2 separate regions of the Homo sapiens genome follow, and region 1 is linked to region 2. Evidence: fine-mapped expression QTL. A gene starts in region 2. The other region holds a variant in brackets. All regions are shown on one strand. Distances are from middle to middle. Region 1 overlaps TMEM117 (transmembrane protein 117). Region 2 holds the start of TMEM117 (transmembrane protein 117).

Region 1 (4,396 bases), 38 kb after region 2:
CTCTCTTACCTTAAATGGTAGATGCTCAAAGGTTATGGATGTGAGTAATCATAGCTCACTGCAGCTTTGACCCCCTGGGTTCAGGTGATCCTCCCGCCTCAGCCTCCTCAGTAGCTTGGACTACAGGAGTGAGCCACCATGCTCAGCTAATTCCTTTTTTACTTTTTAATTTGTAGAGATGGGGTCTTGCCTTGTTACTCAGGCCTGTCTTGAATTCCTGGCTTCAAGTAATATTCCTGCATTGGTCTATTCCTGCCTTTTTAGCGGAGTGAGATGTGACTAAGGCATTTCAAAGCACTCTATCTTCAGAACTACCTGCTACCTATCTCAATTGCAGGTTCATTATTTTCTATTTTTGGCTTATATCCTGTAGTAATCAAAGATTGGCTTGAAAACAATATTGGCACAGACCATCATTATGAGCACGAATACTATTCTAAAAATAAATGAAAAAGGCGTCTGTACCTCTAACTACAGAAAAGCTATGATGAAGGCATTTTGACTGTTCGGCCAGTGGAACTCAGTGACATAGCAGGTATTAAGAAATAACTTTTCTGTAAGATACTTTCTTTTGGGCATCTAATTTGCTCATTTTTAGTTGAGAATTTCAAATACTTATTTTTTCAGAGCTTTTGTATGTATTTTAATGTTACCAGAGAATTAGCTTATTCAAGAATGGAAGATCATAAATCATTACATGACATATTGTACAGGAAGACATTGAGCATAATTTGTTGATAATGCCCACTCACAAAGGTATTTTTGAATCTTTCCATCTTCCAGTTATGACAGTTAAGATAATAGTGTGCTTTCCCACTCTACCATCAAGTAGTGTGTCGTGCCTTGTGGTACAAAGAAATTGTCATGAAATAAAATTCAACCAGTCTTTGAATTCTTAATACCTTAATAGCAATATGAAATTTCTGTAAAATCCACAGATTATAGCTTTCTTTTTTCCCCTCTTGATTCTTATTTTGTGGCAAAGAGAGAAAGATAAAAAATGATGATGCAAATGAGATGTTTTATAGCACTGGAAAATATCTTGAAATAAAAGATAAGTCAGACTCTAAAATGTAGGGGCAATATGAGGATGTAGGAAGATCGGTAGAGAATTTCATCAAAGGTGCCATGAGAAATAAAATCTTAGGAAGAGGATGCTCAATAGTGATGGATGCTTGAGGAGAGACAGAGGATTTTGCAAACTGATTAAAGGTGATAGAAATAATAGTTTCTAATTAAAACTGCTTCTAATTAAAACTCCTTTTAATGGAAGGATAATACTTAGTGAATTTGAGTTCTCAAAGTACTGACTTACAGTTTAAATATGAAAGTCTCATTTTTCTTCTAATAGGGTTAGTAGAGTATAATTAGGCAAACTTAAGTGTTGTGCAGCACAGAGATTATTTTAAAAGTTAAGTATTTGAGAATCCACTTTAATCAAAACCTTTTAGTATGTGAGAATATAATTACATTTTACAAATATATTTGAAATTCTCTTTACTATATGATGGAAAGGTATCAAATTCATCCAACATTCAGAGGTTTAGTACCCTAATGACGTTCTTATTTAACAATTAATTTTAATACCAAAATGCAATAAAACACATTTAGCTATCTTCTTGCTTGTCCTGGATATTAATAAAAATCTGAGGCTTATGCTGAGGCAGGAAAACATTCGTTAATTTTATGTCATTAAAAAAAGAAAACTGTACTCACTTTTGTTCTAATCTTAAATTTTGTCTTTCTTTCTGTACAGTTTCTACCTATTTTTACTGTATCTTTCCAGTTAGTTTTAATTTTTTCGTTTTATTTTATTTTATTTTTTCCTTTTATATTTCTCAAAATTTCATTCTGAGAGCCTTTTACCAAGAAGGTTCTCAGAAGAATACTTTGATAAGTTCTCTTAAAGCTTTGCTATTTTATTTTTGTCTTTTGCATTCCTTTTTCTCTACCTTAAAGCTATCTGCATATACTTGTTTTCTCTTTCATTTCTTTTATTCTTCCAACTGCCTTTTGATCATTTATTATTAAAGCCAGTGAGTTATAATTATTTTTTGTTGTAGCTTGCTTTTAATCTGAGCTGAAAAATCCAT[GT/G]TTTTTTTCATTTGTTATATTCTAGTCTTACATTTTAACTCCCTTCTTTTCATTTATTTATTCTGTTCTATTTTCCTATCTTAGTTTTTCCCACATTGGTAATTATTGCTTTTTTTCTCTTTGGACTAGATAAATTTCTTACTTCAGTAACATTGTAGGAAGGAATGAAAATAGTGAAGACAACAAGACATTTAACTTTTGCATTACAATAAATAGGAAGGAATTATGGAACTTTAATTTGTCTCCTCATTTCATGGGTAAGAGGTCAGAAAGTTATATTAAAAAACATATTAAGGCTGGGCATGGTGTCTCATGCCTGTTAGCCCAGCACTTTGGGAGGCCAAGGTGGGTGGATCACTTGAGGTCAGGAGTTTGAGACCAGCCTGGTCAACATGGTGAAACCCCGTCCCTACTAAAAGTACAAAAAAAAAAAAAATTTAGCCAGGCCTGGTGGCAGGCACCTGTAATCCCAGTTACTCAGGAGGCTGAGGCAGGAGAATCGCTTGAACCCAGGAGGCAGAGGTTGCAATGAGCCGAGATTGCGCCACTGCACTCCAGCCTGGGCGACAAGAACAAGACTCCGTCTCAAAAAAGCAAGCAAACAAAAAGCCATATTAAATCCTGGGAGATAGCCTCATATAGTCTATTTTCCCCAACCATTTTGTTAGTCTACACAGGTTCTAGGATAGTTGATCCTGCACTTTTAGCATTCTTTTTAATTTGACATGTTTTTCAGTTTAAGTCCTTTGTCAGTATAGCACAGAATGAGTACTCCGTTTGTATCAGTTGAATTAATTTGAGCTAGTATCTAATGTACTGAGTTCATTACCATTTAAATATGCACTGAAATCCTTCATTTCTGGAAGAGTAATGGGGATATCAAATTAGATCCGCAGGGATGAAGTGAGGCCAGGGTCACTGAAATCCCTCTGGGGATGCAGGTGGGAATTACATTTTCTCACTAATAAATAACATTTGACATTTGATAAGTATTCTTAAGTTCAGGGGAGCTGAACTTGTTCATACAAACTGTGTTAATTATCTTCCGTAAAAAACAGGTTAGCCTCTATAATTTTGAGCTGCAAGTAATAGATACAAGTCGCCCAAAATTATTTTGTAAATGATGTATTTGTAAGAAGTTAAATACAAACAGCTTCTTTACAGCAGTAAGATTTGCTTAAACTCAGGACAGGGGGTTGAAAAGAATGGTGGGGAAGTGTGTGTGTGTGTGTGTGTGTGTGTGTGTGAGAAAAGAGTCAGAATCGGGTAGGGCAACAGGATAAGTAGAAAGGGTTGTGCTAAAGGTGTGCCGGGAGCCATCTGACTTGTACTGGAGATCCAGTAGCTGAATGTCACTATCAACAGTAGTGAGGGCTCAGAACGCTGAAGCAGGTTTACATGATATATTTTTATTTTATTTTTTTGAGATACCTGGAAATCCACATCTGAGCTTTTGGGATATGCTGTTGCTTTTTGCTTTCAGTAGCTTAAGCAATTCAACTTGGCTTATATGTTTCTCATTTGTAATCTAAAAGTCATGCAGGACTGTGTCCAATAAAGTTTCTCTCATAAATTCATTTCTCTATCTCTTGATTATTTTCTTTGCCTTTTCCTCTGACTGTGACTTTGGTTGGATTGATTATCTAGCTGCCTAAAATTCAAAGAATTAAATTTGGGACAGGGCCTAGAACAAAAACCTGTTGGGCTACTTTATTTACTATTGAAAGGAAGAATGACAAATTATCACTCCATTATTGGGCCGGGCTAACAGTGAATAAGGGAAAGAAATCAGAGGCTACTTTACCTTGCACTCATGTCCTACTCACTCTTCTCTCTTCCCCATTATATATTACGTTTTTTTTTCCCCTGGGATGATATGAGTCCACAAGCTTCATCTGGAAAACCCGCATTTAGTCCCACTTGGTCCACTTATTCATATGGAATAATTCTGATGGCTTAAACTTTTAGTCTTCAAAATTGAAAACCTTGTTGGGATAGTTTTGATTGGCTTAGTTCTTTTGAGTAAAATACTTAGTATCTCAGAATTCTTCTTCCTCTCCTCCAAGATGTCATCTGAAGGTACAAGAGAAAAGTGTGCCCTTCATGATCTGCATGGTATCCAGTGGCTCATCCTGTTCTCATGACTTTGTCCTTTCCTTTCCGGTTATTGTTCACCTTGCATTTATGATGAAGAACAACAGCTAGTGTAACTCATGATTTGATTTATCTAGGATTGTTCAGGTGTGGTGGCATTCTCTGGCTGATTTTGCTCTCTGAGTCTCTGTTGTTTCCTAGAGTTGAG
Region 2 (4,396 bases):
TCACCCTGAAATCCCAGCACTTTGGGAGGCCGAGGCTGAAGGATGGTTTGAGGCCAGGAGTTCACAATCAGGTGGGCAACGTAGACCCTGTCTCTACAGAATTAAAAAAAATTAGCTAGGTGTGGTGGTGTGCACCTGTGGTCCCAGCTACTTGGGAGGGTGAGTCAGCAGGATTGCTTGAGCCCAGGAGTTTGAAGTTGCAATGAGCTGTGATTGCACCACTGCACGCCAGCCTGGGTGACAGAGCAAGACTCTGTCTCTTTAAAAAAGAAAAAAAAAATAGGCTGGGCATGGTGGCTCACACCTGTAACCTCAGCACTTTGAGAGGATGAGGTGGGCAGATCACTTGAGCTCAGGAGTTTGAGACCAGCCTGGACAATGTGGCAAAACCCTGTCTCTACAAAAAATACAAAAATTAGCCAGGTGTGGTGGTGTGTGCCTGTTGTCCCATCTACTCTGGAGGCTGAGGTGGGAGGATCACTTGAGCCCAGCAGGTCAAGGCTGCAGTAGGCTATAATTGTGCCACTGCACTCCAGCCTGGGGTACAGAGTGAGACTCTGTCTCAAAGAAAATAGTAGTAATAAAAGAAATAAATTACAGACCTCAGTATTCTGTATAATTTGTGAAGCTTTACTATTTTTCAGTTTTAACTGACTGAAGAGTCCTTGCTTTAAATGGAGATACAAGGAAAATATAGCATATGGAACCTTTGTTAAACAGTTACCCACGTGTAACAGTTTAAAAATTCTTTAGAGAATAATATTAATTACAGTTATAAAAGCACAGTGGAATATAATGACTAATATGTGGAATTAATCCACTATCTATGAGCCATTACTATAACTTACTATGTTAGGTACTAAGGATACAATCATGAGTAAGATTTAATCTCTGCCCTTGAAGAGTTCATAGCGTAGTGGGAGAAAAAAGAAGTTGCAAAAAAGAACAACAAAAGTGTAATAGTAAAATGTACCAAGTGCTAGCATAGGCAACAACTCTTTCTGGCAAAACTTGTTAAAGCATTACAAAAGAGAACCTTACTAGTTAAGAGTTCTGTAAAATGATCACAAATGATTGACTACTATATATCCAGTGGTGTGGGGATGTGGGGGTTCTATTTCTTAAGAAGACAGAAGACAAGCTGCTGAATGACATTTCGGTTCTGATGAACTGAAGCTCATTTTAGTAGACACCCATGTAGTTCAATTGATTATGCAGTGGATTGAGTTCACTCTCATATATATGAGAGGCATATTTATATATATCCATATATACGTGGTCATTTTTGGAAGCTAGAAAAATGTCAAATTAGTGGGAAGTATGGCAGTGAATTCCCAATTATGCCTATGCAGATAAACTACCCTATGGCACTTGGGCATGGCTCTCTCCATCCCATCTTAAAATCCGCGGACATCTCAGTTCTCCCTCTTGCCATCCACCCATTCCTGAATCAGGCTACCAGTACAGGGGAGGGCCTAGCTCTGCCTTCATAAGTTTGCTAATATGGGCATATAGAAATCCTATTTTCCATTTGATTATATACACTAGTGATAACTTCCATTACCACAAAATATTAGCATGCTGGATAGCAGCTGTTAACACGTTTTCAGCAACCGGTAAACTGAGGTAGCAGTTGCTATTAGGTGTGGAAGGAAACAGAGGCCACACATACATGATGGAAAGGAGGTTACATTCAGGAAGAGAGGAATTGGTCAGATGTAGTCAAAGGGTCTTCCTGCCCTATGCCGCAGAGGTATCATTTAGGTATCATAGAATGACAGGCTCCGGAGAGCCTCAGACTGCAAAAACTTTAAAAATTGTACATGAGTATGTGTGCTGATGTACATATGTGTGTATGCATGTGTATACGTGTGCTTATGTGTGTATACATATGTATGCATGAGTGTATTTGTGCATCTCTATGTGTGTATGAATGTGTGTATGTGTGCATATGTGTGTGTGTGTGTGTGATACCAGGCAGGTTGGAAAGTAAGTGGAAGACTTCTCATACTCCTCATGGGCTCTGCCTCTCCCCACCCCCACATCCCCACACCACCAACAGACAAAAACAGAAATCATGTTTTGCGACCTGAGATTGCTTTCGAAAGTTTGTAGCTCTTCGAGGACATTCCAGTGGGACCCTCATTGGTTCCCTGCAGGATGGTGGATTTTCTGTCAGCCGCCCCCCAACCCCCACCAGGTTCCTGAGTCCGTCCCTCGCCTGCAGCTGCCGCTCTGCAGAGGCGGGCCGGCCCGGGCAGGCTCGGCCCGTGGCGCACGCGGCCCGCGGGCTGGAGTCAGCCCGTGGTGCGGGCGAGAGGGCAGGGGCGGGGAGAAGCCATGCCTCCAGCTGCAGAGGTTGCACACAGCTGGCATGATCGCGGTCACCTGCGCGGCGCCGGTGCCCTTGCGCTCGCGTTGCCCGGCCCGCGGCCGCGGACTTTGCGGCGGGAGCGCGGCGCGGTGAAGCACCGGCGCGGAGGGCGCCCGGCGTAGGCGGCGGCGGGTGTGGGCCGAGCCGGTATTTATAGCTCCGTGACAGCAGCAGCGGCAGCGACGCCGCCGGCCCGTCTCGCCGCGCTTCCCAGCGAGGCCGCCGGCGCGCCGAGGGCTGTGCTCGACCGCGAATCCCGTGTGCAGTCGCCCCGCGCCCCGCGCGACCCTTCGGGTGAGTACGTGGGCCCGGGCGTTGGGCGAGCCTCCCCAGCCGTTCGGTCCAGCCGCAGCGGAGCCCTCCCGGCCCTGCCGCCCGTGTCCCGGCTGCCACCTCGTCACTGCCCGCGAGTGCGGAAGCAGCCGCGGAACCCCGGCCCGGCCCCCGAATTCTCCGGCGCCTCTGCTCCTGCCTTCCTGGGGATGGCAGCCAAAGAGGCAGGGTGAAGTGTCAAGGAGGGAGGGGGGACGCGCCAGCCCTCTGGCTAAGGGCAGAGGAGACTCCCGGGCGAAAGGCTCTTGGTGGGAGTCCTCAAACTCCCGGCTCCAGTGTGTGTGCAGAGATACGGCGGGAGAGCAGACCTTGAACTTTCCTTGCTTCAGCGATTCCTAGCCTAGGAACTGAGTAAAAGCCCTATTTTTCTTAATTAAATTAACAGGTTGCAGTTCGTAGGTGTTGTTCTTGGGAAAAAAACAAAGACTTGGGTGTTTGGGTGTTTGCTAACTTCATCGTGACTAAATAAAACTATTTTTTTTCATTCCTATTTTTGAAAATGCCACAGGCCCACAAGTGTGTTCTACCCTCTGTGGAACAATGAAGTATGTGTATGTGTGTGTGGGTGTGCGTGTGTGAGAGAGAGAGAGACACGGGAGTAAACATCACATGCTTATCAGGAACCAAAAAGGAAAAAAAATGAGTAAAAGTATGTTGAATATAAGGGTATGTATTGCCCCCAATTATAAATGATGTATTGTCTGAAATCCAAGGAAGGACTTCTAGGAAGCTACAGGGTTTTGTTTTGGCTTCAGAAACAAGGTCTTCCAATTTATTGAATATAAAAGTAGTTGAATCCCTGTAAACCCCATTTTTTTTTGTAAAGTATTGACATTTGACCATGGATATACTTTCTTTTATCCCCCAAGTCTTTATAGTTTAAAAGTAATTATGGATTTTGACATTTTGTCTCAGGCATTTATCCCTCCTATTCCACCCTCCATCTGATCCGTGTGATGAGAAACTGGCTCTTGTCAGTTTTATCTAAGTTTCTTTAAGCTGTCATTAAAAAATAAACTTTTCACATGAATTCTATTTAATTCATTAAATGTGTTTTTCTTTGGCATTGTGTTTGGAATATGATCATGGCAATTTCTTTTCTTTTCTTTAATTTCTGTCTTTCTTTCTTTCATGGAGTCGGGCTCTGTCGCTCAGGCTGGAGTGCAGTGCCATGATTTCCAGCTCACTGCAACCTCCGCCTCCCGGGTTCAAGGGATTCTCCTGCCTCGGCCTCCTGAGTAGCTGGGATTACAGGCGCGCGCCACCATGCCTGGCTAATTTTTGTATTTTTAGTAGAGATGGGGTTTCACCATGTTGGTCAGGCTGGTCTCGAACTCTTGACTTCGTGATCCGCCCGCCTTGGCCTCCAGAAATGCGGACATTACAGGTGTGAGCCACTGCTCCGGGCTGGCAATTCCTTATTGCAAACAAATCACTGAAAAGGAGGTCTAAACATTTTTAAAGGATATAGTAGTGATTATATTTTAATTTTATAATGTGCTCCGGCTCATAAATATTTTGCCATTTCAATGGAGAGTTTTCTCTGTTCAGAGGACCCCTAGACCTACTTTGCTTTTGGAGTTGCTGTTTTAAAAACTTGCATTGATTAAGCAATTTGTTTACCCAAGGACTGCAGGATAGGAACAAGGGAAGAAAAATCACTTAAAGGTTGAGACAATGTGAAGAGAA

Evidence for each region. PIP is the estimated chance that this variant, and not a neighbour inherited with it, causes the effect. A credible set is the group of variants that fine-mapping cannot tell apart.
Region 1: its variant is the best candidate, but not a certain one, in a credible set for the expression of TMEM117 in whole blood (INTERVAL, PIP 0.55).

Annotation. Positions count from the first base shown.
Region 1 is chr12:43,871,911-43,876,306 of GRCh38, forward strand. The region is part of intron 2 of TMEM117 (transmembrane protein 117); the gene reads left to right. Among named protein-coding and RNA genes, the nearest start is that of TMEM117, 38 kb to the left of the region's middle. The variant GT/G (reference allele first, on the strand shown) is at 2,094.
Region 2 is chr12:43,833,529-43,837,924 of GRCh38, forward strand. It overlaps TMEM117 (transmembrane protein 117), which reads left to right and starts at 2,553. Exons shown (of 8, transcript NM_032256.3): 1 at 2,553-2,668. RefSeq lists silencers at 2,228-2,337, 2,368-2,807, 2,794-3,026.